Homo sapiens: one gene and its partners. The protein of the gene in region 7 purifies or fractionates together with the protein of the main gene of each other region. This does not show direct contact. Each region holds a gene or a part of one and is shown on either strand. Other genes may lie near its edges.

Region 1 (4,249 bases), about 10 Mb from region 7:
CTAATCCCAAGCTTACACTGGCATTTAAAATCAAATTGGAGCAATTTATCAATCTATTGGCAATTGGGGATGGTCTACTGCCTGGCTCAGGAGAAGATGGCACTTTGCCCTTTGTTGTCCTCCTCATCCCATCACACCTGTAAGGACCGGAAGTGGGAAAGGATGCAGGCAGTACTGCCAGACCACAATGTCCAGCCTTAGCCAAGCAGCCAAGGGCCATGGCTTTTGCTGCGTTTGAGGTGGGGAAGGAAAATCCATGGAGTTAAGCCTAATTATCTACATGAGAATAGTCTAAAAATTGAAAGTAGCAAAAAATGTTACAGAATGGGACCAAGATCCCATTCAGTGGTGATATAGGTGGGCATAGCAATTGGGGGAAGGGCAGAGAGAAATTGTTTCAAGTTTTCCCAACAAATAATCTCCCTCCATTAATGGATCATACATTCACATCTATAAATGCTAGGAAAGGCTAAATGTTATAGTAGGTATCTTTGTCTAGTTAAATTATAAATAATTTCTCTAACTTCTACATTTTCTGTGCTGGCCATGTATTTCATTTGTCACAAGAAAATCAAAATTACTATAAAAAGAAAAAACAAGTGAAACATAATGTAACCAACCATTTCCATTTAAATGAACTGTTACACTAACATCCAGATATCATCCCACAAGATTAATCTACTAAGTTTTCTGGGAATAAAAGGATCCATAGTGGGAGGGAAAAGCCTTTTCTTTGTTGTTAACGTTAAAGAAATTATTTTAAAAGGTTGGAAATAAACAGCAAGCACATCAATCATTCACTTTGTGAGATGATTCATGCAAAAGCATTTTGAACAGACTAAAGTTACCCTAATACACTGAAAATGTGAAAATCTGCAATGTGCTAAAAAAATATTATCTTTGTCAAATAAATTTTTCAGTGTTGTCAGTAAATCACTCATTTGTGAATCTCATGCAACAAAATAAAACTGACCAAATGTTTTTGCAAAAGTAAATTTCACTCTAAGAACCCACTGACAATGAAAGGTACTTATTCACACACAAACAAAGATAACAGAAATATCAGACATTAAGAGCACCAAGGTACAAAAAGCTTAAATTCCAAAATTAAGGCCCATTTAAAAAGATCAATGACTAAAGTAGATTATTCAATATGAAGTATTATTTAGTAAAGTACAAAACTTCATAAAACCTATAAAAACTTTGGCACACAGTTCCCCCTCATATCATGAACTCATTTGGCAGGTTAAATAAAAACATCATAAGTGATATCAGCAAAAATGGCAGAGTGAGAAACTCCAAAGTCCATCCCTCCATAAAAACAGAAAAAAATTGGCAAAAGCTGTCATAATCCATTTTTTGGGAACCTAGAAACCTAATTAAAAGCTTGTGGCAACCAGAAAAACAATCAAGAATTAAGCAAGAAAAAGAAATAAAAGGCATTCAGATTGGAAAGGAAGAATGAAACTATTTTTATTTGTAGATGACATTATCTTCCATATAAAAAAGCCTAAGATATCTACAAAAAAATCTGTTAATAGAGTTCAGCAAGATTGCAGATACACAATCAATATATCATCATGTGGTTAAACACTAGCAATGAACAATCAAAAAATGAAATTAAGAAAACAATTCCATTTATGATAGCATGAGAAAGAATAAAATGCTTAGGAATAAATTTAACAAAAGAAGTGCAAGACTTATACTTGGAAAATTACAAAATACTGTTGAAAGAAATGTTAAGCGTCCTGAACAAATAGAAAGATGTCCATGTTCAGGTACTCGAAGACTTAATATTGTTAAGGTTGCAATACTCCCCAAATTAATCTAGAGATTTAAAGCAATTCTTTTTTTAAATGTCAGCTGGCTTTTTTTCTGAAGAAATTAGTAAGCTGATCCTAAACCTCACATGAGAAAATTCAAGGAACCCAGAATAGCCAAAACAATCTTCCAAAAGAACAAAATATAAGGACTCATACTTCCAATTCCAAAACTTACTACAATACTACAGTGTACAATACAGTGTGGTACTGGCAGAAAGACAGACACACAGATAAATGAAATACAATGGAGAATCCACAAATAAACCCAGCATCTACAGTCAACTGATTTTTGACAATGTTGCCAAGACTATTCAATGGGGGAAAGGAGTCTTTTCAAAAGCGGTGCTGAGAAAACTGTATGGCCACATGCAAAAGAATGAATTTGATACCCACCTCACACAATATACAAAAATTAACTCAAAATGGACCAAAGAACTAAGAACCAAGTGTAAGAGGTAAAACTATAAAACTATAAAAAGGGGCCGGGTGCGGTGGCTCAAGCCTGTAATCCCAGCACTTTGGGAGGCCGAGGCGAGCAGATCACGAGGTCAGGAGATTGAGACTATCCTGGCTAACATGGTGAAACCCCGTATCTACTAAAAAAAATACAAAAAAAATTAGCCGGGTGTGGTGGTGGACACCTGTAGTTCCAGCTATTCCGGAGGGTGAGGCAGCAGAATGGCGTGAACCCGGGAGGCGGAGCTTGCAGTGAGCCGAGATGGCGCCACTGCACTCCAGCCTGTGCAACAGAGCGAGACGCCATTTCAAAAAAAAAAACAAACAACTATAAAAAGGAAATGTAAAAGTACATCTTTGCCATCTTGGATTAGGCCAGGGTTTCTTGGATATGACACCAAAAGCATAAGCAGCCAAAGAAAAAAATAGATAAATTGTAGTTTAGCATCAAAGGACACTATCAAGAAAGTGAAAAGACAACCCACACAGTGAGAGAAATAATTGCAAATCATATATGAGATTAAGAGTCTGTACCAGAATACATTAAAAAAAACCTCTTATAACTAAGTAACAAAAAAATAACCATTTTTTTAAATGGCTGAAGCATATGAATAGACATTTCTCCAAAAAAGATACAAATGACCAAGAAGCACATGCAAAGATGTCAACATCATCAGTAAATAGGGAAATGCAAATCAAAACTACAGTGAGGGCTGGGCGCGGTGGCTTACGCCTGTAATCCCAGCACTTTGGGAGGCTGGGGGCGGATCACCTGAGGTCAGGAGTTTGAGACCAGCCTGGCCAATATCGTGAAACCCCGTCTCTACTAAAAATACAACAACAACAACAACAAAATTAGCTGGGTGTGGTGGTGGGCGCCTGTAGTCCCAGCTACTCAGGAGCCTGAGGCAAGAGAATTGCTTGAACCTAGAAGGCAGAGGTTGCAGTGAGCCAAGATCATGCCACTGCGCTCCAGCCTGGGCGACTGAGTGCGACTCCGTGTCAAAAAACAAACAAACAACACTACAATGAGATCCTACTACACACCCATTAGGATGGTTATAATTTTTTTTACAAAGCGAGTATATAGAGAAATTGGAATCCTCATACATAGCTGTGGGAATATAAATGTGCAGAGAACACAGTTTGCAGTTCCTCAAAAAGTTAAACATAGACTTACTACATCACCCAAGAACTCCACTCCTAAGTTACAGTGTGGATGCACTTCAAAAGCCAGATATAAAAGGCCACATAATGTATGACTCAATTTTTATGAAATGTCTCCATAGACACAGAAAGTAGATTAGTGGTTACTAATCTGAGAGTGGGGAAATTGGGGTGTAATTGCTTAACAGTTATGGGGTTTCTTTTATGGGTGATGAAATGTTCTGGAATTAGACAGTAGTGATGACTGTATAACATTGTGAATACACTAAAATCCACCAAATTGTACAATTTAAAATGGCTAAAATGGTGACTTTTATGTGAATTTTATTATAAATAGCTAAAACATCACTTAACTGAAAATTACATTACTGATCAGTTGTAAAACTACTGTTCATTATAATCTGAAAGACTGTCAGATGTGTGCCAAATTTTTGTAAAGTATGGTTCCAAAATTCTAGATCCTCACAATACATATATGTAGATACCAATTCATCTTTATTGTGCTTCTAACTTACTTTAAGAGCCTAAAATCACAGTAAGTTGTTTTAATGACAGCTATACAGAATGAGCCAATCAATGAATACTGGGACAATTTGAACAGACTGCCTCTAAATCCCTACAAATAAGACATACAGCTTTCCCTATGAATCTTGACTTTTAATTAGCATCTATAGCAGGCAACTTGTAAAATGTGAATCAATTATTTCTAATGGCCTTTAGATATCATTCTGAAACTGCCAAAATGAAGCTAATATCAAAAAAGTATTTTTCATATATCAAAATTAGAAATCTTTATCCTGATT
Region 2 (4,249 bases), on a different chromosome or scaffold from region 7:
CTCTTCTAGAATGAAGATACGAGGAGGGGCCTTCTCTTCTATTTATTGTATTTCTTTTATCTCCAGTAATGAAGAGGTTTGATATATACAACACGTCCCTTAAAAAAAAAAAAAAAAATGCCATGCTGGCAGTTCGCAAACTGTGCACTCAGGTGCCCTAAGGTGTCCCAAACTCATACAGCCACCAAAGGATATTTCGAATGTTCAGGGAAAACAGCAAAACCTTACATGTCAGATATTGGCAAACTAGTTTGAAGTAGTTCACAAATTCAACGTAAGATCATGCTACATTCCTCTTAATGACATAATATTTCTATGAAGCTGAGTTTCTGGCAGTTGCTGTGATTAAAAAAAAATACTAGATGAAAATCAATATGAAACAGGAATGCAAGTGGTTCTGCCAAGTCATTTAATGTCCAACAGGTGCACACCTCTCATTGGTAGCTAGCCACAGTTATTTAAGAATGAAATGAAAATATTTCTTCTTTCAATTTATTTTTTTTCTAAATGGCTATTAGCTGTTAGGCTATAAATACTTATTAAACAGTTAGAATATAACTGCTTAAGACTGAACTATTTTCTTTTGGCCGAGGAGCACTGCTAAAAATTTATTCAGATGCCAAAGCAATGGTAACAGATTTTAGGAATGTGTGCCACTGTGGCAGGAACACTAAGAGAAACCTCGAGAGCTAGCCTTTGGAACTGAATTGCACCAATTCCTCAGCTTATAGGCCTATAGCGGGTCACTACAACACTTTGCCTTAATTTCCTCAATGGCAAAATAGAAACAATATCACTTTGACTATGTGATAGAATTGTTCTAAGGACTACTGGAGATGGAAGATGAAATTCCTGTGAACTGTAAAGCATGACAGTTATTCAGCCTGAAGGGGAAGAAAATGGTTAGGGGTCCACAAATCACTAAGTGTATTTGAAAAACTGAATCTCACCTTTCTGAAATCTCCTCTAGTAACTCCATAAGTTTAGCAGCCAAACCAAGGCGTCGAAATTCTGGGGCAACAGACAGAGCTGTGACGTGCCCGTGCCATTCTTCCCTAGCTACTGAGCCTTCTGCTTTACCCATAACTGCCAACAACAACAAAAATCACATTCAGTAACTAGACATTGATTTACACATAAATATAGAATTACTGTTCAGTATGTTTTTATTACAAAGGAAACTAATAAAGAAGTTTTTAAGTACCACCTGAGGTCATCCAGCTAACAGTTAGTGCTTTTATTTGAAATTCACTTGTAAATGTAACACTATCTGTTACATTTAGAATAGTTCTAAAATCAGAATTAGAACAAAAAAGAACGATATACTTAAAACACAACTAATTTTGAAAAAAAAAAAACCAGAGTATGTATTTTTTCAAATATCTGCATTTCATATGGGTGTGGGTATATGTGGGTACATGTGGATGTACACATATAGTTCAGAGCTAAAGGTTCTGTTAGTAATGCTAATTCAATGAGGATGCTATGATGCCTGCATTATGTACTAAATAAACCATGTAGAAATTTAACAAAAGTATAGAATGAAAGATTTTTTTTTTTTTTTTGAGACAGAGTCTCACTGTGTCACCCAGGCTGGAGTGCAGTGGCATGATCTCAGCCCACTGCAAGTTCTGCCTCCGGGGTTCAAGTGATTCTCCCGCCTCAGCTTCCTGAGTAGCTGGGATTATAGGCACGCGATACCACGCCCAGCTAATTTTTTGTATTTTTAGTAGAGGCAGGCTTTCACCATTTGGCCAGGCCGATCTTGAACTCCTGACCTCAAAGGATCTGCCTGCCTTGGCCTTCCAAAGTGTTGGGATTACAGGCGTGAGCCACTGTACCTGGCCTTAGAATGAAAGATTTTTTTTTTTTTTAGAATGAAAGATTTAAGAAGACTAAGACCATGTCTGTCTGGTTCACTGCCGTTATCGCCTGGGCCTAGCACAGTGCCCAAAACAGAGATCAGTAAGTTCTTGAATTGTTGAAGAGGAAATAAAATTACAAGCATCATTATATTCCAATTCTGCAGTCTAAAGCAATCAGTTGAAATCTATATTAAAATCTTTACCTACTCCACAAAATACTAGTGGTATTATACTTACTATAACCCATTAATTCTCCACCAGGTGCCTCTGCAACAATGAAATACTCTGGCCAGTGGGCGAGGTATTGTAGGTAGAAAGGAATCCCATACTAGAGTCCTGTTAAGGAGTGTGAAAAGTAATGGACAGTAAAAAGTTCTTCATTAAGGGATATTGTAAAAAAAGTTTCCTTTAAAAAGTATACTGTTACTTTATCCCCAGCTCTGTATGAGTCCTATAATCATACATACCATTACATGAAATATTTAGGTTATCACTGATTTTTAACAAAATTGCCTGGACATATAGCCTCAAGTGTGGAATGGTGATAGCACTGTCTAATAGAAAGCAGAGAATCAGGACCCCAAAGTTCTACAGTCTACTTCCCTACTGACCATACCATATCTAAGTCTCTCCATTTATCACCTGATATTGTTTGTTTGCGGTCTGCCTCCTCTTAGTCTATGAATATCATGTTCCCTCTGTCCCTGGTGCCTGGTACACAGTAGATGCTTAATACACTGATGCTTACATAATTGCACTGAAAAATTAATGGGTAGTTCCTACTTTGACTTCAGCTATGAGACTGTGAAAATAACTTTACAACCTAAGTCCTTCCAGAGCCAACTTAATTACCCAGTTTTTCCTCTCCACTGATTCAAATCCTGCATTTCTAGTAATGCAGATAAAAGCTGACTTAAGGAATCAACTATGTTAACAGTAAATGCCTGAATAATTTGCTCATGACTTCACTCTTCAACCTTGGGATATCCTTACTGACATGTAATCATTCCTACATTTCTCTTCTTCTTTTTACTCTGTACTTTAATGGATGAAAATATATTTCTTGTTAGTATAAACTTTCTGATGCAATTTATCAGAGGACACCATCAATCACACATAAATATATTTTTTAAGTTCCTGGAAAACCTGTTCCGTGCGAAATTCTTCAAAATCTCCTCTGAAGGACCATCATTATTTTGAATACCCCTCAAATACAACCCTTAACATGGCAGGACAGCCAGTCTTCCTGCCAGCCAGCCACTGACATATACCACAACCATCTCTTCTGTGGCTAACAGAGGAGTCCCAGACACCCCTCCCTCCCATCGACCTCTAGGACCTAACAGGTTACTTTCAAATATAGGCTCACCTGGATTATGGGACTTTCACTGCAAATTTTAAATGTCACTGGAAGCACACCATATAAACGGATTTGCATCCTAAAATCCTTCCTTCCTATATAGTGAAACTTTTGTCATTCAAAATTCTTCAAAAATCTTAAAAGTGGTGATATCATTAGTCGTAATTTAAAAAATCCAGATGAACCTGCAGAGATTTTTTGCTTTTCCCATTCAGTTTTGTTTCTGATATGTAGTCCTGTTGCTGCCTGCACCTGTAAGTTAATTTTTACTGCTGTATAGTATTTCTTTATGTGAAGAGACACCTTAAATAGCCTGTATCCTGACAATGGACACCTGGGTCATTTCCTGTTTCTCAAAAAAATGTTTGAAATCCTTCTTCAGTACAGCTTAATTTACTTAACCATCTCCTGATTGTTGTGTGTGAATCTTATTCCAAATGCTTAGTAACTCTCCTGCAATAAATAATGTTTGTAATGGTATAACTCAGGGGTTAGCAAACTTTTTCTGTAAAAGGCCAAATAGTTAACATCCTAGGCTTTGTGGGCCATACAGTCCCTGCTGAACTACTCAAACTGCAAAAGCCACAGAAAAAAATATAAATTAATCAGCGTGGTGTCCCAATAACATTTTATTTACAAAAACAGGCAGTGGGCCAGATTTGGCCTATGGGCCTTATTTTGTCAACCACTGACAAACTGCCTCTATTTCTTCTTATTTTCAGCTTTCAGGAAATGGAATTACTATTTCCAAAGTGCCTTCTGGAAAGATAATAGCAATTTATATTGTCACTAGCAATTTATGAGAATGTTCCTCTCACCTCACCATCATCAGCACTGAGGTTTATCATTTTTTAAAATCTTGGCTGATACATAAAATATGGCATCTCATTTTGGTTTTAGTTTACATGTCTTTTGACTGATGAGACTGAACTCTTAACACGTTCATTAAGCTCCTATATGCCCTCTTTTGATAAATTACCGGTTAGCAGAACCCTCCTACCCACCTACAGTAGATACAGAGCAT
Region 3 (4,249 bases), on a different chromosome or scaffold from region 7:
TTCCCTTCTACTTCCTCCATCCTACAGCCTGGGACATGATGTGAGGGCTGCAGCAGCCCTCCTGGATCATGAGGTGACTTTGGGAACGGAGGCCAAACACAGCAGAGTGACCTGGTAGAAAATCCTCGAGCCCTGGGGCCTTCACAGAGCAGGGCCAGCCCTGGCAACCGTGGCCTGGCTCTCTTGGGACCTAACAGCTCAGTAGGATAAACTCACAGATGATCTTAGCCACTATTGCGGGGAGGCCCGTTCTGTTCCTCGCAGCTCAACTCCATCCTAATGGCTCATGCTGGCCGGCCACAGGCCCTGGGCATTCAGGCTGCCACAGAGGCGGGAGGGGCCACGTGCTCCCAGGCTGAGGGCAGCAGGAGCAAGAGGCAGGGCCGGGCCAGGGGCTGCTCCACTGCCATTGCCACCTGTGTCCCCGCTTCCTCCACAGGCAGGTGACAACACCCCGGCCATTTCCTGCAGGAGCCACTTCTTCTCATGTTGCCACCGAGGGAGGGCTTGGTGCCCGTGCCCTTGAACCGTGAAGGGGAGCCCCAGCAAGGCGAGGTCCTTGCCCAGGGCCATCTCGCACCCAGCAGTGCAGGCTGGAAGCAGAACCCAGAGGCTCAGAATTCAAAGACAGAACTGAACACTCCATCTACTGTGTCCCTGTAGCTGCAGCCCCCTCTCCTCCTCCGCTCTTCCGGCCCGACAGACACTGTGGACAAGCAGTATTCCTTGATAAGCCCAGGACAAGACAACAGCTCAGTCTGGCCTCCTTTTCAGTGAACTCATCTCTGAATCCACCTGACTCTGCTGGCCCCAGCCCCCTCCAAGCGTCTGCACAAACCTCTTGACAGTAGCCATCACTGCACACATGTGCCTGCCCCTCCCAGGCTGCCCCTGCCCACCACCCCATGGTCCTTCCAAGAGCGTCTGATCCTGCTCAGGGAAAGCCTAGGCTCCCGCCTGGTCCCGAGGGCCCTCTGTGAGCCAGCCTCTCGCACCACCAAGCCTTCGGAACGCACTCCGCCCTGCTGCCCCTGGCTTCCGGACGGGGTAACCACTCAGCATTCTGCAGGGCTCAGCTCAGACCTCTTTTCTCTGGGAGAGGGTATCCTGGGTCCCCCAGTGAGGTGCACATCCCTGCTAGGTGCCCCCTTCCCTAGAGCACCTGGGGCCATCTGTGTGGTGTTGGTCCTCCCTGGTAGCAGCCTCTGCCCCGCCCCGTGGCACCTGGCACTTTAGACTCTGGATGTTGAGGTAATCTTCACTCCCTGGAGGCCAAGGGAGAGGCCAGGGTGGGACAAAGGGTGGCTGCCAGCCCCAGGCCTCCTACCTCCCTCCCGCTGCAGGATGTGGTGCAGGTGCACGACGTCCAGGATGGCTTCCAGGTCCTGCTCCGAGTAGCCCTTCCTTTGCATGTCCTCCACTGAGTCCGGGTAGATCACCTGGTCACGCAGGGAGCCCACAGACATGTAGGGCCTGTGGGAAAGCTGGGTGTCCACGGAGGGAAGGGCCGGCTCTGCCTCCCCCAAGATACTCTGCGCCTCCCAGGCAGTGTCCACATGCCACGCTCACACGCATCCACACGCTCACATCGCCGCCCGTGCACACACCCCACACAGATCCAAAACAGGGCAGTGGATCGGGCGGGTTTGGAGGGAGCAGGAACCACAGCCCGTCTCTGGCTCTGGGGACAGTGCCTCAGTGTCCTCTCCTGAGGTGCTGACTCTTCACCACTTCCTGGGCCTCTGCAGGAAGCCATGTGTGAGCGCACAGGCAGGAAGAGGTGGAGGAGAGGCGCACGGGCTTCCTTACCTCTGCGGGATGTAGAACATGCGCTGGGGTGGGGGCTTGTAGAGCACACCACCGTACGTGGGCCAGAGCCCACCCAGGATCCGGAACAGGGAGCTCTTGCCGCAGCCATTGGGGCCTGTGATGAGCAGATGCATGCCTTCCTCCACCTGCAGGGGCAACAGCCGCTGACGCCAGAGAGCGCAGGCCCCTTCCCGTACCCTATGGCCTCCTGACCAGCCTTGAGAGGCTCCCAATGCCCGAGGCCAGCACGCAGGCCATTCTTGATCTCTTGATAAGGGACAGCAGGGCCTGGGGGATGGGGTCCAGCGTCCACAGCCCTAGCTAAATTTGGCTCTCGCTAAATGCCTGGCCCAGGACACAGGAATGGACAAGCCCCGGCCCAGTCCTCAGGCCCTGACACGCCTGGAGAACATGGTGCCAGCACAAGAGGAAGGGCCTATTCTGCCACAGCTGAATGAGTAGGTGTGTTCCAACACAGCCAGCGCCGTCCTCAGTCCCATCCGACTCCCACTTCACCAGGAATCCAAGTGCAGGGTCAACTGTCAGCCCCCTTTAAGGAACTGCCCTGAAAGGCACTTTGTTTTCAAGAGACGAGACCTCACTCTGTTGCCCAGGCTGGAGTGCAGCGGTATGATCACAGCTCACCGCAGTCTCCAACTCCTGGGCTCAAGTGATCCTCCCACCTCAGCCTCCTGAGTAGCTGGGCCTACAGATGCACGCCACCATGCCTGGCTAATTTTTAAATGTTGTTTTAGAGACAGGGTCTTGCTATGTTACTCAGGCTGGTCTCAAACTCTTGGCCTCAAGCGACTCTCTCACCTTGGCCTCCTGAGTCACTGGGGACAAAAGGCAGTTTCTTTCTTTTCTTTTTGAGACGGGGCCTTGCTCTGTTGCCCAGGCTGGAGTGCAGTGGTGGGATCATGGCTCACTGCAGGCTCAACCTCCTGGGCTCAAGAGACCCTCTCACTTTAGCCTTTTTTTTCAAGTGGCTAGAACTACAGGCACCGCCACCACACTTGGCTTATTTGTGTATTTTTAAAAATTTCTGTAGAGACGGGGTTTGCCATGTTGCCCAGGCTGGTCTTGAACTCCTGGGCTTAAGCGATCTGCCCACCTCGGCCTCCCAAAGTGCTGGGATGACAGGCATGAGCGACCACGCCCGGCCCAAAAAGCACTTTCTTTATGTCTCTAGACTGACAGTACAGACCCCACTGCCTCCCCAGGTGCCAGAGTGGCCCAGAGATGCCACAGTGGCCCCTGGGCTCTGCATCATGGACCTCAGGCTCCTCAATTCACTGACTCCATGGTCCTCGCTGGAGCTAGGAAATGCCTACTTTGGGAAAATGCCGGCCAGGCTGGAGGCGGGCTGTGTGCAGGGAGGAGGCCAGGGGCCTGGAGTCAGTGAAGTTCACGGTAACAACAACAATGCTACACGGGGCTCCTGGGAAGACTTGAGGCCGTGGTCTTTAGCTTACCTCAGGCAGTGTCATGGGTGGAACTCTGTCCTCTGAAATTCCTATGTGGGAACCCTAATCCCCACTACCTCGGAGTGTGAGCTTATTTGGAAACAGGGTCATTGCGGACGTGATGAGTTAGGTCTGCATGAGGTCATTCTGCAGAGGGGTGGGCCCTAATGCAGTGTGACCTGTGTCCTGACAGAAAGGGGAGACGGAGACACGGACACACCCAGAGGGAGAGCGCCGTGTGGAGACAGAGGCTGAGGCCGACCTGCCGTGGCAGAAGCCAGGGAAGCCCGCAGATGGGCAGCAGAGCAGAAGCTGGGACAGAGGCCCCGAGCGGAGGCACCTTCTCGGTCCTTGGCAGAAGCCCGCCCTGCCTGCGCCTTCCTCTCGGACTGCTATTCCCCGAGCCGGGAGAGAGGCCATCTCTGCTGGGAAAGCCACTCAAAGTTTGTAACGCTTTGTGACCGCAGCCACAGGATGCTAATGAAGCCACCTGACTGTCCCCTCCTGAAGGGTGGGGCCTGGGCCTTGCCCCATCTCGCATACCCGGCTCCCTGAGCATATGTGGCCCTGCGCGCAGGGGCCCCATGAGCTTGCCCGCTGCCCCTGCCTGCTTGTGCTGCCCGGGGCCAGCCTGGAAACCACCTTCCTTGGACTCACTGGTGATCAGCTCCCCCGACATCCTAGGAGGGGCCGCTGCGAGCGGTGAGGGGTAACCACCTGTGCCGGCCCCCTCCTCCCTGGCATGCCCCTCCTCTCTGCTTCCTCCTGCGTGACCTGCCCCTCAGGCCCACGGCCCCTCACTCCTCTACCCTCAGCTGCCTGCCCACTCGCTCACAGCAACTCCTGGGCAAGGCTTCATCCCACCCCCACCACCCCCAGGGACTCTGACCACTCTTCTTGTGACCCCCACTGTCCCTTGAACAGCTGTCTACCTGGAGACCCTTTGTAACACTTTAGTGCCCCTCCACAGTGAA
Region 4 (4,249 bases), on a different chromosome or scaffold from region 7:
AGGCCTTGGTCCACTGGGACCCACTCCACCTCTGGAGGGGCTGGGGTCTGAGCTCAGACGTGCCTGTGACCAACCCCAGTAGAAACCTAGACACCAGGGCACAGCGAGTGTCCCCCGGGAGGGGACAGGTGAAGCGGACACCTGGTGTCTCCCAGACCCTGCCCCACGCCCCCTTCCCTCTGTGACACCGCAGCAGTGAGCAGCACGGCACTGCCGAATTCTATGCCCCTTCGAGATCACTGGGCCCCAGGCTCTGGTGGGGAGGCTGCCCAGTGCTGGGCCCTGGCTGGACCGGGGACTGCCCTTTAGAAGACGGCCCACAGAGGTCTTCTTTGGTGACTTGCCTCATCTGGAGAAATTAAAAAATGAAAGGCAGGCGCCAAACGTTTAGGGACATTTCTATAAGATCTCATTATAATTGTTTCCTTTGAACAGGGGGAAGGCAAACTGACCAGGGCTGGGGTCAGGCGTGCTGGGCCCCCTTTGAAAACACAAAGCCTGGCCGGGCGCGGTGGCTCATGCCTGTATTCCCAGCACTTTGGGAGGCTGAGGTGGGTGGATTGCCTGAGCTCAGGAGTTTGAGATGAACCTGGGCAACATGGTGAAACCCCGTCTCTACTAAAAATACAAAAAATTAGCCAGGTGTGGTGGCAGGCACCTGTAATCCCAGCTACTCAGGAGGCTGAGGCGGGAGCATCACTAGAACCCAGGAGGCGAAGGTTGCAGTGAGCCAAGATCGCACCACTGCACTCCAGCCTGGGCAACAGAGCGAGACTCTGTCTCAAAAAAAAAAAACAAAAACCGAAAACACAAAGAGCAATGAGAAAGTCCTGCCTCTCCGGTCACTGCAAGGCTGGAGAAGTGGGGACAGGAGGAGCCCTGAGCCCCACCCACTTTGGGCCTGGGTGTGGTACCGGGGGGGCCAACCTTGCACTGAGACCTGACCCATCCCCAGCAACTGCTCAGCAACCCAGTCCTCGGGTGACCAGCCCCTGCCTCAGCTTGGAGAGCCACCCATTTCCTCCTCCCTTGCCTGAAACCGGGTAATGGAGCCTCTTTCATTTCTCCTGGCCCAGGGGAGGTCCCTAACCCGGCAATCCCCAGGGCAGGCCAGGCACAGCCACACTGACTGGGGGCATGGGCTGTGAGAGGAACCTGGGCAACAGGCAAACAGGTGGCTTTGACCCCGACCCTGACCCTGACCCTTGCCCGCGGCTGCGCACCTGCCTCACGGCCTGCTGCAGCTTCTCCAGGCTGAGCTCCTGGGCCTCCCGCAGCAGCGTGCTCTCGTCCATCTTCAGCATGGACACACGATATTGGCAGAGCTCCACGACCACCACGTCAGGCTGCACCTCCCGGATGGTCTGCAACAGCCACAGGTCACACCTCGAGAACACAGCCGCTCCCTGCCCCTCAGCACAGCTGACGCCAGCACCAGGGGCCCCATCCCAGGAGCAGCCAGCCTTGGCGTCACCCCAGGGCTAGCTAACCCCGCTGCTGCAGTGACAGCTCAATTCTCTAAGCGACGAGAGAGGAAGCTGTGAGGCTTGTTCACTTGTTAAGTGGGAAAACGCACAAGGCCGTCACGGCTCCCAGGCAGGAAGCCCACCTTGCCACTCCCAGGGACCACAGTGTTGAAGCAGGAGGCCTGCGGTGCGCACACACGGGCACACGGGCCCTGCCGGGAGGTCCCTGAGTGCAGGACACAGGAGCTTACACCAACCCGTGTCCGGGATGTGGCGGGTGGCGGCGCTCACCTTCACAACGTCCCTCTTGCTGTCGTCGCTGAAGTGGGCTGTCCCCACCACGTACACCCTGCTCCCGTCCTCAGCCACCAACTGGGTCACAGTGCGCGGCAGGTTGGGCCGCTGACGCCGCCGCTTCAGCTTCATCTCCAGGAGCAGGTTGAAGGCGTCCACGTCGGCTGCAACAGCAGCACAGGCCGTTGTGGTGCCGGGCCCACCCCAAGGACGCCGCCGGGCCCGCTGGCAGCCTGGGCTCTAGAACCCTCCTGGGTTCTGAGAACTGAACAGGTGCAGAGCACAAGACTCCTGACGAGCGTCACACTCCACAGGCTTTGCCTGCCCAGTGATGGGAACACCGGCTACCACCTCTGTGAGCTGCACGGCTTCGAGAAGCCAGGGCCTCAGGAGTCCTGTGCCCCATACACCCCATGAGGGCGACCTTGGGGGTTGCTGTGGATGAGGTTCGGTGTGGGGGACAGTGGGGGCAGGTGCCGCAGGGGGCTCAGCTAGGGGAGGGGCTCTGAGGCGAAATGGGCCCCCCCACCCCACTCAGGAGGGACAGGCTGAGGCCACAGCAAGGAGGGACTCCCGTGCCGCTCACACTGCTTGTGCTCACGAGCCCCCCATGCCCAGGGGCCTGCCTGTGCTGCTTGCAGCCCCTCCAAGAGGCTCCACTGCCAGGCAGGGCCCAGGAGCAGCTGCTGTTGGGTGGCACCAGGCCTAGCAGCACCTACCTCAGGTCTCGGCCAGGGCCCCTGCTCACCACAAGCTCCAAGCCCCTGGCAGTGGTTGGCTGCCTCCCCCTCCTCCCTGACTCAACAGCCCAACACCGGGGAACGTGCCAGGACCCTGAGGGACACGTACACAGGTTCTGGGGGTCTCCAGAAAGCACCCTGGGCACCGGCTCTGAAGCCTCTGACGGCACAACAGGTTCCACGTTGGCCTGCAGGTGGAAAGGAGAGTTCAAGTCAGGGTCCATGCACCCCAGAAAGCCAGGGCTCCGTGGCAACTCCACGGACCACGTACCCTGGAAAGGGACCCGTGGCCGCTGTGTGGACCACACACCCTGAAAAACGAGGGCCCGTGACCGCTCCACGGACCACGTACCCGGGAAAGGGACCCGTGGCCGCTCTGTGTACCACACACCCTGAAAAGCAGGGCCTCCGTAGAGCCTAGGCCCCACACTGTCAGTACCCCTCCTGCTTGGCCATCACTGGCACGGCTGCCATCAAGCTGGGCAGACAGGGCCACCAGGCCACCTCAGCCCAGCGCCCCTCTCCCTCGGAGGTGCCTCCTGCCTGACCCTGGAGAACCCTGTGAAGATCACCTTTGCAGAACAACAGCCAGGGACCGACCCCGAGAGCCCACAAAGCGGGGAAGCCCCCCGCCCCTGTCTCTGTGCAGCCAGCCCAGCCTCCACCTCACCTCGTGCGGTGGCTGCTGCTCCTCCCCGTCCATGGCTGGGCGGCGGCTTCCTGCACCTGTGGGGAGCCTGAGGAGAGGCATGAGAGGCGGGGTTTCCACCTGGAGCCCCAGACCTGGCTCAGGACTCACTGCGTAGTGCCCTGTCAGTCTAGAACCATCTGTTGGGTGGGCCTGGGGGCTCCTTCCCCCATATCCCCAAATGCCTCCTGCCCATCAAAGGCTGCTGAGGTCCAGGGTCGGTTCAGGTCAGGCCCGGGTGGGGAAAGGCCAGCAGGTCCCCAGACACCCCAGCATAAACCAAACGCAGACGGGCCCAGGGCGGGTTGCTGGTGCACAGGCCTCACTCAGAACAGGGCCAGAGCTGCCCAACCCTCACTGCGGCACGGCGGGCACACATAGGAAGGCAGCCCTGGGGTCCACACATGATCTCAGGACACAGCAACGCAGCTGCTGACACATGGCAAGGACCCCAGGGCCTTTGTACAAAAGCCACTTCCCCTTTCAGTAACTACAGCCTGGGCAACAACACCGGCACAGAGTCAGTACAGACGGAGGAATCCACAAAGCACACAAATCAACGTGTTTGGACCTAAGACCTTCTCTCCCACTTTAAGAGACAAACATGGTGTGGAAGGAACCACGGTAGAAACCCGGACAGGCTGGGGCAGCCACACGAGGGGGCTGCCCCGAGGCATCACAGCTCCCCACAGACTCTCAGAAACCAGGAGCTCAGGCCGGGGGCCCAGGAGCCTGAGGGAAGGAAGAAAACAGCCAGGCGCCTGCAGCACCAGAGGCACGCACCGGCCAAGACCCACAGAGCATCGGCGAGACCTGCGCGGAGCCCCTCGAGGCGGGGCCAGGGACCAGCAGGCTGTCCTGAGACTGGCCACAGGCCCTGCTGCACCATGTGGCTCTTCCTGAATGTTCTCAGCCACGGAATGCCAGGAGTGACTGTTTACCAAGTTAATGGCTCATGCATGTCCTGGCGGATGGATGTGTCACCAGGCAGAATCATTAAAATATCCCAAACAGGCCAGGCGCGGTGGCTCACACCTGTAATCCCAGCACTTTGGGGGGCC
Region 5 (4,249 bases), about 21 Mb from region 7:
ACAGCACGGTGCTGCCCTCCCCGAGTATCCCCACTGAATGTGAATGTGGTTTTGAAGCGATTTCTAGGATCACTTAGTTGGAAACCCATAAAGACTATTTAAAATGGGTCTGCTCTCCCTGCTGCCTTGGTCTACCAACACAAAGCATCTCTTGTGTTAGCAGGGGATTTGCGGGCTGCCTCCCTCCAAAGGGGCTGACAGGCCTCTCCCCAAACAATTGGACCAGTCCTATGACGCAGACATGCTTGGCCACATCTCCCCTCTGACCTCTCTGACCCCACAGTCTCCTCTGCCTCCCCCAGATCTCCCTGCTCCTCATCAAGGCAACACTTCTCAGACAGCTGCTGGCACCTGATATCTGCACTTCCTCCCAATTGCTTGTCAGCCCTCCTGAGTCTGGCTTCTGTCCCCAACATTGTACCAGTGTGGCTTTTGTCACAGCCATCAGCTGGGTACAAAATAGTGCACAATAAGTGAATGGATGAACGAATGGGTGCTGCTCCCTAGTTCCCAGCTGACTTCTACAGACCAGCCTCTTTCTCTTCATTTCCACATCTCACTCTGGGTTGGGCAGGCTCTTGCCCAATGAGAGTCCTGAGCCCCACTCTGTACTGGCCCTGCACTGTGCCGTGATCGAGCCCACTCACCGGATGGGGAAGCCAGCAGCACTGATATGGATGGTCTCCACGAGGCCACAGGCCTCCAGCTGGCTCAGGACCTGCAAGGGTGGGGAGACAGGGCAGGCACCTGCAGCATGGGGCCAGCAGGCCAGAAATGCCATTCTCTCAGCCCTTCTTCTTAGACCCTGGCCAGTGCCAAGCTGCAGGCTCTCCCAAGGCTTGGCTAATGGGGGTATCTCCTTGGGGCTGTGAGAAATCGAGGGACCTTGAAAACAAATCTCCCACTAGAAAGGGTCCTGGTGGTCCCAAGTCCCCCTCATCCGACGCATGGCTTCTGATACAGCTGAAGCAAGTGATGTCCTGGCTCCGTCTCACCCTGCCCTCAGTGTAGTCTCACTACCACACAACCCAGCCCAGGCAAATTTCCAGTTTGGATTGTTTTCACTGTCTGCAGGCATTAGAGGGTGGTTCACAGCTGAGAGGCAGGGAAGATTATACTATGAAGATTCTTCTGTGACCTGAACCCAGGTCTTTACCACAGAGCTGAGTTGTCCTGGCTACAAACCGGAAGGCCACATCTACCAGGCCACACCTTCAGCAGTGCCCAGCATTCACCCCTCATCCACATCCCTCAGAACCTGGAATCCCAAGAAAAGGGCAGCTGCTGGCTAGAGTGCTTTTGTTAGATTAGAAAAAAATGATACCGGCTGAGTGCAGTGGCTGCTCATGCCTGTAATCCCAGCACTTTGGGAGGCTGAGGTGGGCAGATCACCTGAGGTCAGGAGTTTGAGACCAGCCTGGCTAACATGGTGAAACTCCATCTCTACTAAAAATACAAAAATTAGCCAGGTGTGGTGGTGCATACCTGTAATTCCAGCTATTTGGGAGACTGAGGCAGGAGAATCACTTGAACTCGGGAGGCGGAAGTTGCAGTGAGCTGAGATTGCACCACTGCACTCCAGCCTGGGTGACAGAGTGAGGCTCAGTCTCAAAAAAAAAAAAAAAAAAGAAAAAAATGATACCTCCAGTGAGAAATGGCTGCACTGTGCGGGGACTGTGTGGTGATGTAGACTTTCAGCTAATCACGAGACACCCATTCCTCTGGGCAGTTTCAGTCTCTCATCAGGGTACATGGCTCAAAAAAACAAGATGCACTGGAACTTGCCTCCCTGGCTAGGCTACTATGCACAGACCACACAACCATACATGCCTGCCCTGCCACAGCAAGGGAGATGGGTCCTCTCTCATGTCAGGCCTGGCCGGAGAGACCACTTCTGTGCACTCCATTTGGAACAGATGTCCTGCCCTTCATCTCTCCAGGGCCTTGGCCAGATGGGGTTTGGTGCGAAGCAGCTTTGGCCCGGTGTTAATTACCTCCTCTTGGAGAAAGGTCTGCGCCTGGCCCTGGCTGTTGGGCTTGATGCAGCGAATGTAGTGGGGCGTGGTGCTGTGTAGGACCTGCAGAAGCTGCTCCAGTGAGGCCTGCAGATGAGAGACCATGGGGTTAGGCAGGGAGAGGGGCTGCCCAGGGCCATCAACTGGGCTCTGGTTAGTAACTACATCAAATGCCTCCAGCGGGCCCTTCCATGATCCTGAGACCAAGAATCTCCTGTGCAGGGATGACTGCTGCAGGCTCTCAACGAGCAGGCTCAGAGCACATTCCTCTCCCAACTTCCCATGCTCCTCACCTCTGTCTTAAGGGACCCTTCTAAACCTGTGATCCTCCCTGACTGTTCTCCCTGAATCCAATCTCCTCCTCTTTCCCCTCCCCACTTCTCCCCAGAGCAATCTTCTTAGAAAAGAACAATCTCAAAACTTCTTGCCATTCGTCCAGCAACAACTGTTATCACTCAGCTCATCCTGTGTGTTGGAGGCTGTGCCACAGGCTGCCTGCTGCCATGTCAGAGCTCACTCCAATGGGCCACACATGTTGGATGAACACCCTCGGGGGTGTGTTTGAGGCTGGGTAGGAAGGTGCTAATCAAACCTGGTTTTCCAGGTGCCTCCTCGAGGTGGTGGTGATAAAGCTAAAGTCTGAAGGATGAGAAGGACTAAACTAGGAAAAGGGGCGTGGAGGATGGGAGTGAGGTGGAGCTGATGGGGCAGTAGTCAAGAGTATCCCAGGAAGGTGGGGCGGTACATGCAAGGACTGAGAGGTGGTAGAAAGCAGACGATGTGAGAGAAGTGAGTGAGGGTAGGGTTAGAACAGGAAGCTAGACAGCTGGAGATGAGCCAGGTCAAAGAAGCTCATGTAGCTGATCCTCTTCCCATGAGCACCCCAGTGGCAGGGGGTGAGAGGCTGCATAGTGCCCCCATAGGCCCCTAGACTTCCCATCATATTATACCTGATAGCCTATTTGTCTACTGTTTCTGTCTTCCACACTGAAGTATAAACTCCAGGGGACTGGGACCACATCTACTTGACTTGCCACTGCTCCCCAACAAACAGCACCGATCCCGGCAGGTGCTCAATAAATATTTGTGAGACCGTGGAGTTTGAACCAAGCACCTCCCATCAGCACATCAGACCCACCTTGAACTTGGACACCACGGTCAACACAGGGGCCCTGCTCTGGCCAGGGGGTTCCTCCTGGGTCTTCTCTTTGGGGTTAGTAGGAAACAGCCCCATGAGCAGGGGGTCCTGGGATTGCTGCAGGAGCCTGGTCAGCTCAGGTGGGATAGGGTCCTATTGGGAAATGGCAAGAGCAGCAGTGAGGGCAGGTGGAGCTTCTGCTCAGGGCCATCCACTGCCCACCCAAGCCGCAGATGACGGGGCTTCCAGGTAGGACAGGGCCTGAGTCCAAGAGAAGGTCCATTGGACAACCAGAGACCTGGAGACCCAGTCTAACATGGGTTATCTCCAGGCAGGTCATGCTTGATTAGTGGAGACCTCAGACAGGTGGGCCCAAGATGGTGATTCTGGATTCTGGGAGGAGGTTCAGGAGAGAAAGGACTCACGATGGGAAACTACTATGTCTGCATAGCAAAGACCCAGCATCTCGTTTCTCGCAGGCCCCACAGGGCATGGCCCAGCCCGTACCTTGTTCTTCTCCACCAGGCCTGCTGTGTGGTACCGCACAGGCCCCGCATAATGCACCACAATGAAGCTGGGCTCCCGGCTGAGCTTATTGTGGCCCAGGCAGGGGCTGCCTGCCAGGGCAGTCTCAATGCGTGTCTGGAGCTGGGCTGCGCTGCTGGGTCGATTGAGGCGGCATTCCTGTGGGATGGGAACAGGGGGTCAGCCACCAACATGAGAGTGTCTCACCACAACCCTCACTGTCCCCACCCTGTGGACCCCATGACAGCAGACATCACACAGGCATCATAGTGTCCCCAACAGAAAAAATATAGCAATTAGCAGATCTATTTGGCAGACTGGGAGGAGAGAGGCACAGAGAGGAAACAGGATAATCATCAAGGCCCCAGAAAACCCAAAGGCCAACTCTGGTGCTCGGCTCATTAGCTGACCTCCCCACCTCATTTATGAGGGAGCAGATGCTGATGGGGCTTCCCTCAATGAGATCCAAACAGGGCTGGTTGTCCTGGTAGTTGATGAATGACCACTCCAGGCCCTCAACTGCGTATTCCTCCTAAAGAACAAGGTGGGATGAGGTGGGAGAAGGCAGCTG
Region 6 (4,249 bases), on a different chromosome or scaffold from region 7:
CTCGGAGGAAGCTGGCTCTCAAGCATGTGACTACACTTAAAAGCGAGAGCCAGCAGGCCAACAAGCTCTTGTTACCTGCCCGTTAGAAACAGTGCCCAGGCAGGAACCATTCTTTCCCTGACCCAGCACAGCTCAGGATCACTCCAGCTCTTTCCCTTCCATTTAAACAACAGGGGAGGCCTCATATTTTCACACACAGAGAAATCAAAGCATGCATCACATAAACACCTGCATTACGCATGTGTTTGTCCACCACATCATCTGAGTAGGTGACTCAGAGCTTCCAAGAGGGTTAGTCTGGGCTCCCAGAGGGGAGCGGCCTGATCTACCCCATCTCTGCATGCCCAGCACCTGGCACACGGCTGGCACACCATAGCCACTGATAAACAGGCAATGAGTTGGGATTATTTCAACTACCAATCATACTACTTTAAAATTCAGATTTGTTTTAGTTCAACAAGTATTTAGGAAACACCTTCTGTGGCATCAAGCGCCACGCAAAGGGCAGGGCACAGATGAGGGCATGAAGTTGGACAGTCTCTTTCTTCAAAGGGAGCCTCGTGTAGCAGCCTGGCATGTAAAACAACGAGAAGCCAAGCTGCTCTATTTGAAAGCAGAATGGAAAGAAGGTGGCCCCCCTGAGCCAGGGGCCAACCCCCGAAGCACCACCACTGAACTTCTAGGGTTCTGCAGACTAGAATCTGAAACCACTGTTCACACCTGAGCCCCACTTTCACAAGTGAGGAAACCAAGGGCAGATAAGACTCAGTTACTGGGTCTCCACAGACAATCTCAGGACCTGGCGCCAAAGTGTCCTTCTAAAGAGGGAGCCTGAGGAAGCCAGTGCTGGAGTTGACACTCAGACGAGCGGGGCCCTGGGAACCAGTCCTTCTCTGCTGATAGACAAGGAACTAGAGGTTGGGCTCAAATTAGTAACTAGTAGAAAAGGCATAGGTGACGTGAGTTTCCTATAGTTCTGTCACCAATCTAAAAATATCAAAGAAAGGGCGCCCTGGTCAGGGATCACTGACACCCAAACAGTGCCTGGTATTAATGGCAGCCAGAACTAGGCAAAGGAAAACACGTGGGCTCCGGAGTTGGAGACACCTGGGTAAAACCCTGATCTATTACTTACAAGGTATCGGACAACTCTCAAACCTCAATTTGCTTGCCTTGTAGATGGGGATAAGATTCACCTATCTTTCATGATTAAATGAAACAAAACATGTGGACTTCTTAAAGTAATTACTAAATGGCAGTTCCCTTGTCTTCCTGGCCTCATCTCCCCAGACTCCAATTCCACATGATTTCAAGAGCAGAGCATTTCTAAGGCTATCTGGTTATGACTTCCCTGGGAGCAGAGATATACCTCCCCACCCGCAAATCCCACTAGCTAAATATCTAAACAGGTAAGAGCGGGCCTGGCTGAGCCGGTGCCCCCTTACCTTCAAGGAAGGTGGCGCTCTCCTGGATGTAGGCCCCCAGCTGCTCAAAAATGCCATTGATCTTCTTCTTGGCAGTGACAAAGTGCTTAAGTGGGGATGCATTCACCTCAGCCATGTGTCTCTTATTTTTCTTGACTGTGACGATAGAGTTGCATCGAGAGAAGAGCAGGGACATTGCGCTGCAAGAGAAGCTAACGTGAGCGAACCCAGCAACACCTACCTCGGGACATCCTGCTAGGGAGATGGCGGAATGCTTTGGGGAGAATCAAGAATATGGGGATCTCAGGTCACTGCAACCTCCAGGACTAGAACAAAGGACGGTGAGATAAGAACAGTGTCTCAGGCTGGGCGCGGTGGCTCACCCCTGTAATCTCAGAACTTTGGGAGGTTGAGGCAGGTGGATCACCTGAGGTCAGGAGTTCAAGACCAGCCTGGCCAACATGGTGAAACCCCCGTCTCTACTAAAAATACAGTAATTAGCCAGACCCAATGGCACACACCTGTAATCCCAGCTACTTGGGAGGCTGAGACAGGAGAATCACTTGAACCTGGGAGATGGAGGCTGCAATGAACCAAGATCATGCCATTGTACTCCAGCCTGGGTGACAGGGCGAGATTTTGTCTCAAAAAATAAAACAAAATTAGCATGACACAGTGGCATGCATCTGCAGTCCTAGCTACTTGGGAGTCTGAGGTGGGAGGGTCACTTGAGCCCAGGAGTTTCGGCTGCAGTGACCTATGATCAGTCCACTGCACTCTAGCCTGGGAGACAGAGCAAGACCACATAAAAACACTATTGGTTAGGGGCCAGGTTCAGTGGCTCATACCTATAATCCCAGCACTTTGAGAGGCCAAGGCAGGCAGATCACTTGAACTTTGGAGTTCGAGACAAGCCTAGGCAATGTAGGACCCCGTCTCTATTTAAAAAAAAAAAAAAAAACAGCCAGGCATGGTGGGTTATGCCTGTAATCCCAGCACTCTGGGAGGCTGAGGCAAGTGGATCACAAGGTCAGGAGTTCAAGACCAGCCTGGCCAACATGATGAAACCCCGTCTCTACTAAAAATACAAAAAAATATAGCCGGGTGTGGTGGTGGCCGCCTATAATCCCAGCTACTTGGGAGGCTGAGGCAGAGAATTGCTTGAACCTGGGAGGCGGAGGTTGCAGTGAGCCGAGATCGCACCACTGTACTCCAGCCTGGGTGACAGAGCCAGACCAAGTCTCAACAAAGAAAAACACACACACACACACACACACACAAAAACTATTGGTCTATTTTAGTATAGCACAGGTGTGCTACAGAAAATTTGGAAACTGAAGGGGAAAAAAACCCATAACCCCATCATTTTGTGATAAGCAATGTTAACATTTTATTTACTTATTTATTTTTTATTTTGAGACAAGATCTCGCTGTTACCTGGGCTGGAGTGCAGTGGCGCAATCACAGCTCACTGCAGCCTCAACCTCTTGGGTCCAAGCAATCCTCCCACCTCAGCCTCCTGAGTACATGAGACCACAGGCATGCACCACCACGCCCCACTAATTTTTTTAAAATTTTTTGTAGAGACAGGGTCTTCTTATGTTGCCCAGGCTGCTCCCAAACTCTTGGGCTCCAATGATCCTCTCACTTTGGATTCCCAAAGTGTTGGGATTAAAGTGCTGGGATTAAAGGCGTGAGCCACCATGCCCAGCCAACATTTTTTTTTTTTTTTTCTGAGACAGAGTCTTGCTCTATCGCTCAGGCTGGAGTGCTGTGGCATGATCTCGGCTCACTGCAACCACCACCTCCCGAGTTCAAGCTATTCTCCTGCCTCAGCCTCCCAAGCAACTGGGACTACAGGCACTCGCCACCATGCCCGGCTAATTTTTGTATTTTCAGTAGAGGTGGGGTTTCACCATGTTGGCCAGGTAGGTCTTGAACTCCTGACCTCAAATGATCCACCCACCTTGTCCTCCGAAAGTGCTGGGATTACAGGCATGAGCCACCACGCCCGGCCCAACATTTTGTTTATTATAATTTTTTTTTTTTTTTTGAGACAGAGTCTCACTTTTGTCACCCAGGCTGGGTGCAGTGGTGCAATCTCAGCTCACTACAACCTCCACCTCCCAGGTTCAAGCGATCCTCCTGCCTCACTCAGCCTCCTGAGTAGCTTGGAGTACGGGCATGTACCACCACACCCAGCTAATTTTTTTATTTTTCGTAGACAGGGCTTCACCATGTTGGCCAGGCTGGTCTCAAACTCCTGACCTCAAGTGATCCATCTGCTTCGGCCTCCCGAAGTGCTGGGAATACAGGCGTGAGCCACCGTACCCAGCCATATTATCACAGTCTATTTTTGTGTGACTGTCTCTCTTGCTCTCACTCAATCCTACATATCTTTGTAGCTTATCTTTTCATATAACAACATTTTAGAGGTCATGAGACTTGACTCCAAAGTCCTAGAGGTCTTTGGTCAAAGGTCAAAAGAGGCTGGGCATGGTGGCTCACACCTATAATCCCTGCACTTTGGGAGGCCCAGGCGGGTGGATCACTTGAGACCAGCCTGGCCAACATGGTGAAACCCCTTCTCTGCTAAAAATACAAAAATTAGCCAGGCATGGTGGCAGGCACCTGTAATCCCAGCTACTCGGGAGGCTGAGGCACGAGAATTGCTTGAACCTGGGAGCTGGAAGTTGCAGTGAGCTAAGATCGCGCCATTGCACTCCAGCCTGAGCAATAGAGCAAGACTCCATCTCAAAAAAAAAAAAAAAAAGATCAAAAAGAGGCGTACACACCAGAAGGAGTGCCCAGGGTAAGACTGGGAA
Region 7 (4,249 bases):
CCAGATGATGCTAATGTGAAGCCAAGTTGGAGAACCGGTTGTGAAAGAAATTAAAAATCTCTCCTCCCAAAAGGAGGAAGTAAGACTCTTTATCTGTAGGTAAGAAATCCCAAGGAAATCTACTAAATGGTTAGAATTAGTGAGTTCAGCAAGTTTGCAGGATACAAGATCAGTGTGTAGAAACTTCCCCTCTCCTACAACTGAATGGCTTGTTGTGTGTCCTTCCCAGTTTTTCCATGGGATTATGTGAACATAGACATTCCATACACATGGTGGTCTGTACCTTTTTGTTTTACGTATCCAGGTGATTTTTTCCATGTCGGCACATGAGATCAACTTCTTTCGGTAACATCGGTATGTCAGTGGATTCCATAATCTACCTAGCAGTGATTCCCCTGAAATGTTTGTTAATCCCAATTTTGTTTCAAATGATGCCTCAGCCTGTGCAGAGGTACGTGGGTTAAAAACATTTTGAAAAAAAATTTTTTAAGGGACTAGTCTCACTGTGTTGCCCAGGCTGGTGGCAACTCCTGGACTTCAGCGATCCTCCTGTCTCTGCCTCTTTAAGTAGCTGGGATCACAGGTGCTTGGCTTTGTGGATTTTTCTTTGTTGTGGTTTTGTTTTTGTTTTTTTAATTTAAAGATGCCAAGTGTGGGATTTCAGAGTTGTAGGATGTGGTTATGAGCTTTTAAGAGCTATCATAAGGCTCTCCGGAAAGGTAGTACAGACTTCCCCTTTTCTTGGCTCATATAGCGCCTCTTCCCCACAGTTCTAGAATAATGGGTTCCAGATTTAATGTGGGAGAGAATTTAGGTACCCATCCCTTGGCTGTATGCCTTGAGCTTTTTTTTTTTTTTGAGTCTCGCTCTGTCACCCAGACTGGAGTGCAGTGGCACTATCTTGGCTCACTGCAACCTCTGCCTCCCGGGTTCAAGTGATTCTCCCGCTCAGCCTCCCGAGTAGCTGGGAGTACAGGCTCCCGCCACAACTCCCGGCTCTCTCTCTTTTTTTTTTGTATTTTTAGTAGAAACAGGGTTTAACATGTTAACCAGGATGGTCTCAATCTCCTGACCTCGTGATCCACCCGCCTCAGCCTCTGAAAGTGCTAGGATTATAGGTGTGAGCCACCGCACCCAGCCTCCTTGAGCTATTTTAACCTTCAAGATAGTAATTCATTTGGCTGGGCACCGTGGCCTGTCATCCCAGCACTTTGGGAGGCCGGCTGGCGGATCACCTGAGGTCTCGAGTTCCAGTCTAGCCAACATGGCGAAACCCCGTCTCTACCAAAAATACAAAAATTAGCCAAGTGTGGTGGTGGGCGCCTGTAGACCCAGCTACTCTGGAGGCTGAGACAGGAGAACTGCATGAACCTGGAGGCAGAGGTTGTAATGAGCCGAGATCACACCACTGCACTCCAGCCTGGACGACAGCGAGATAAAAGGAAAACAATCTAGCAAGGTTCTGTGTTTGAATGTGAAGCAAAACGGTAGCACTAAATTTCTTCCCTGAGGAATTGATGTAAAGCCTTAGCCCTGGCCACTGCCTAGCCCTGCATTGTGCTTCAAATGCTATCATTGCTGCTGCTTCAAATATCAGCAAGAAAGTTTATCTTTAAAGATATAGGGACTTTCAAATGGAGGTGACCTTCTCACTACCACTGCCCCCACTTCATCACTTCAGGGGCAGAACACACCTCTTAGCATTCCTTCACAAACTGTAAGGTCCTTCTCAATCCCCTAGGGATCTTGTTAAAATGCAAGTCTGAGGTGAGACTGGGATACTGCATTTCTAGCAAGGTCCTAGGCAATATTCAGGACTTCTGGTACATGGATCGCACTTTCAGAAGCAGAGTCCTAGAGTAGTGGTTCCCAGCCTTGGCTGGAAAGTAGAACCTCTCAGGGAACTTTTAAAAGTACTGATGTTCTGGTTCTGCCAGAAAACAATATAAGTCAAACCAATATGAGTTGTTAAAACATGTGCATTTGTTATCTCTAAAAGAAAACAAACCCAAATAAGGTGTAATTCAGCTTGTCAGTTGAAGGATTTTTGGTTTTAAAAAGACATTACTTTGGCAGAGAGATTTAAAGTTTGCTGGCATAGGAAGCATTGAATGTAAGTGTTCTAGAATAAGCCCATCATATACCTTTAGTGAGTGTTAACTGCTTTGCAAAGAACTTTCTATATCTCAGCTAATCCTTATACCAACCATCCATTAAGAGATGTGTCCCCATCTTACAGATGAGGAAAAATTGAGTTTTCTATCCCCTTTACATGTCTGTTGCCTTCTTCTAGGCCCTTACTATTCCTCCTTGCTTAGACCTAACTGACTTAGGTTTCTAGGTTCCTTCTGCTCGATATACTTCACTTTTCTTTTTTGAGATGGAGTCTTGATCTCGGCTCACTGCAACCTCCACCCCCCTGGATTCAAGCAATTCTCCTGCCTCAGCCTCCTGAGTAGCTGGGATTACAGGCGCCTGCCACCATGCCCAGCTAATTTTTGTATTTTTAGTAGAGACAGGGTTTCACCGTGTTGCCCAGGCTAGTCTCAAACTTCTGACCTTAGGTGATCTGCCGAGCTCTGCTTCCCAAAGTGCTGGGATTTCAGGCTTCAGGCATGAGCCACTGCGCCCAGCCTCGATTCACTTTTCATCCTGTTCCCAGAATTGCCTTCTAGAAACAATTTGATGTGTGTGCCTTGCAGACCTATGCTGGTTCTCTGTTGTCTGCAGGATAAAGTCCAGACTACGCAGTGGGGCCCTAGGACACCCTCACTGACCCCACGATGGTACAGATGCTCCTCAGCTTACAATGGAGTTACATCCTGGTAGACCCATTGTAAGCTGAAAATAGCATAAATCGAAAATAAATACATCTAATGCACCTAACCTACTGAACACCATAGTTTAGCCTAGGCTACTTTACATGAGCTGAGAAGACTCACAGTCGTCTACAGTGGGGCAAAATCACCTAGCAACACGATCCACTCTGGAGTGCCCGTTGTTCACCCTTGTGATAGAGTGGATGACTGGGAGCTAGCATTGCGAGAGAGTAGCGCATCACCTATTGGTAGTCCAGGGAAAGATCAGAATCCAAAATTGGAAGTATAGTTTCCACTGAATGGGTATTGTTTCCCACCATTGTAAAGTTGAAAAATTCTCAGTTGAGCCTTGGAAGATCAGGGAGCGCCTGTATTTGAATCTTCCAAGTCTGACCTGGACCTTCATGCTGCAGTTTGCTGTGTTGGTCCCTCACCCTGGAGCATCTCCTTAGCCATTGGGAATTTTATTCCTCCTTCATTCTCACTGTCTCTAATTGCTGAGTAACAAAGTTCCATTTCATTGACTCATGATTTTATGGGTAGATGTGAGGGAACCATGCACATGTGGATTCCATGGGGGTTTGAAATGCTCTGATGCCACTTGATAGAAAAAAATGTTCTGTGAGTTTAGAGAACTGAGCCACACTGAGCAGAGCTAGCCCCTTTTTGGGGAACATAGAGAGAATTTGGCATCATGAAGTGATGAAGGGAGGGATTTGGGTTAAAGAATAGAATGCTCGGTTTGTTTCAAGAGGGTGCGTGAGTTGGGGAGCATGGAGGGGAAGATGCCTCTTCCTGGCCACTGACCCCCAGTGGATCACACAGAGGGTGGACTGGTACGAGCTGAGAGGTGTGCTCCTCTTGGAGGGCAGGGAAGGCGGAGGAGATGGCTCCAGCTCTACCCTGTTGACTGTCTTGCATGTGCGGTTGCCAGTATCCTCCTACCTGGCTCTGTAACATCCCTCCTCCCCGCTCTCCTGCTCTCCCCAGGTGTAATTACTTCAAGCCTCCAGGATGGCAATCCAGTTCCGTTCGCTCTTCCCCTTGGCATTGCCTGGGATGCTGGCGCTCCTCGGCTGGTGGTGGTTTTTCTCTCGTAAAAAAGGCCATGTCAGCAGCCATGATGAGCAGCAGGTGGAGGCTGGTGCTGTGCAGCTGAGGGCTGACCCTGCCATCAAGGAACCTCTCCCCGTGGAAGACGTCTGTCCCAAAGTAGTGTCCACACCCCCCAGTGTCACAGAGCCTCCAGAAAAGGAACTGTCCACCGTGAGCAAGCTGCCTGCAGAGCCCCCAGCATTGCTCCAGACACACCCACCTTGCCGAAGATCAGAGTCCTCGGGCATTCTTCCTAACACCACAGACATGAGATTGCGACCAGGAACACGCAGAGATGACAGTACAAAGCTGGAGCTAGCCCTGACAGGTGGTGA

What was found.
Region 1: the proteins of AKAP1 (region 7) and HELZ purify together in Homo sapiens (affinity purification with mass spectrometry; one large-scale study listed by BioGRID and IntAct). This does not show direct contact.
Region 2: the proteins of AKAP1 (region 7) and NAA20 purify together in Homo sapiens (affinity purification with mass spectrometry; one large-scale study listed by BioGRID and IntAct). This does not show direct contact.
Region 3: the proteins of AKAP1 (region 7) and ABCD1 purify together in Homo sapiens (affinity purification with mass spectrometry; one large-scale study listed by BioGRID and IntAct). This does not show direct contact.
Region 4: the proteins of AKAP1 (region 7) and TRABD purify together in Homo sapiens (affinity purification with mass spectrometry; one large-scale study listed by BioGRID and IntAct). This does not show direct contact.
Region 5: the proteins of AKAP1 (region 7) and MYO19 purify together in Homo sapiens (affinity purification with mass spectrometry; one large-scale study listed by BioGRID and IntAct). This does not show direct contact.
Region 6: the proteins of AKAP1 (region 7) and MFN2 purify together in Homo sapiens (affinity purification with mass spectrometry; one large-scale study listed by BioGRID and IntAct). This does not show direct contact.

The regions. Positions count from the first base shown.
Region 1 is NC_000017.11:67,101,850-67,106,098, forward strand, and holds part of HELZ (probable helicase with zinc finger domain), read right to left. Parts: intron 1-4,249. UniProt on the Homo sapiens protein: May act as a helicase that plays a role in RNA metabolism in multiple tissues and organs within the developing embryo.
Region 2 is NC_000020.11:20,023,621-20,027,869, reverse strand, and holds part of NAA20 (N-alpha-acetyltransferase 20), read right to left. Parts: intron 2,194-4,249; coding exon 2,103-2,193; intron 1,087-2,102; coding exon 951-1,086; intron 1-950. UniProt on the Homo sapiens protein: Catalytic subunit of the NatB complex which catalyzes acetylation of the N-terminal methionine residues of peptides beginning with Met-Asp, Met-Glu, Met-Asn and Met-Gln. Proteins with cell cycle functions are overrepresented in the pool of NatB substrates.
Region 3 is NC_000023.11:153,737,798-153,742,046, reverse strand, and holds part of ABCD1 (ATP-binding cassette sub-family D member 1), read right to left. Parts: exon of another isoform or gene 3,469-4,249; intron 1,956-3,468; coding exon 1,810-1,955; intron 1,474-1,809; coding exon 1,328-1,473; intron 1-1,327. UniProt on the Homo sapiens protein: ATP-dependent transporter of the ATP-binding cassette (ABC) family involved in the transport of very long chain fatty acid (VLCFA)-CoA from the cytosol to the peroxisome lumen.
Region 4 is NC_000022.11:50,192,015-50,196,263, reverse strand, and holds part of TRABD (traB domain-containing protein), read right to left. Parts: intron 3,238-4,249; 5' UTR 3,204-3,237; coding exon 3,171-3,203; intron 2,689-3,170; coding exon 2,610-2,688; intron 1,925-2,609; coding exon 1,758-1,924; intron 1,365-1,757; coding exon 1,224-1,364; intron 1-1,223.
Region 5 is NC_000017.11:36,503,303-36,507,551, forward strand, and holds part of MYO19 (unconventional myosin-XIX), read right to left. Parts: intron 4,211-4,249; coding exon 4,097-4,210; coding exon of another isoform or gene 4,089-4,096; intron 3,838-4,088; coding exon 3,661-3,837; intron 3,307-3,660; coding exon 3,154-3,306; intron 2,103-3,153; coding exon 1,995-2,102; intron 719-1,994; coding exon 648-718; intron 1-647. UniProt on the Homo sapiens protein: Actin-based motor molecule with ATPase activity that localizes to the mitochondrion outer membrane. Motor protein that moves towards the plus-end of actin filaments. Required for mitochondrial inheritance during mitosis.
Region 6 is NC_000001.11:11,986,540-11,990,788, reverse strand, and holds part of MFN2 (mitofusin-2), read right to left. Parts: intron 1,625-4,249; 5' UTR 1,621-1,624; coding exon 1,446-1,620; intron 1-1,445. UniProt on the Homo sapiens protein: Mitochondrial outer membrane GTPase that mediates mitochondrial clustering and fusion. Mitochondria are highly dynamic organelles, and their morphology is determined by the equilibrium between mitochondrial fusion and fission events.
Region 7 is NC_000017.11:57,101,632-57,105,880, forward strand, and holds part of AKAP1 (A-kinase anchor protein 1, mitochondrial precursor), read left to right. Parts: intron 1-3,809; 5' UTR 3,810-3,833; coding exon 3,834-4,249.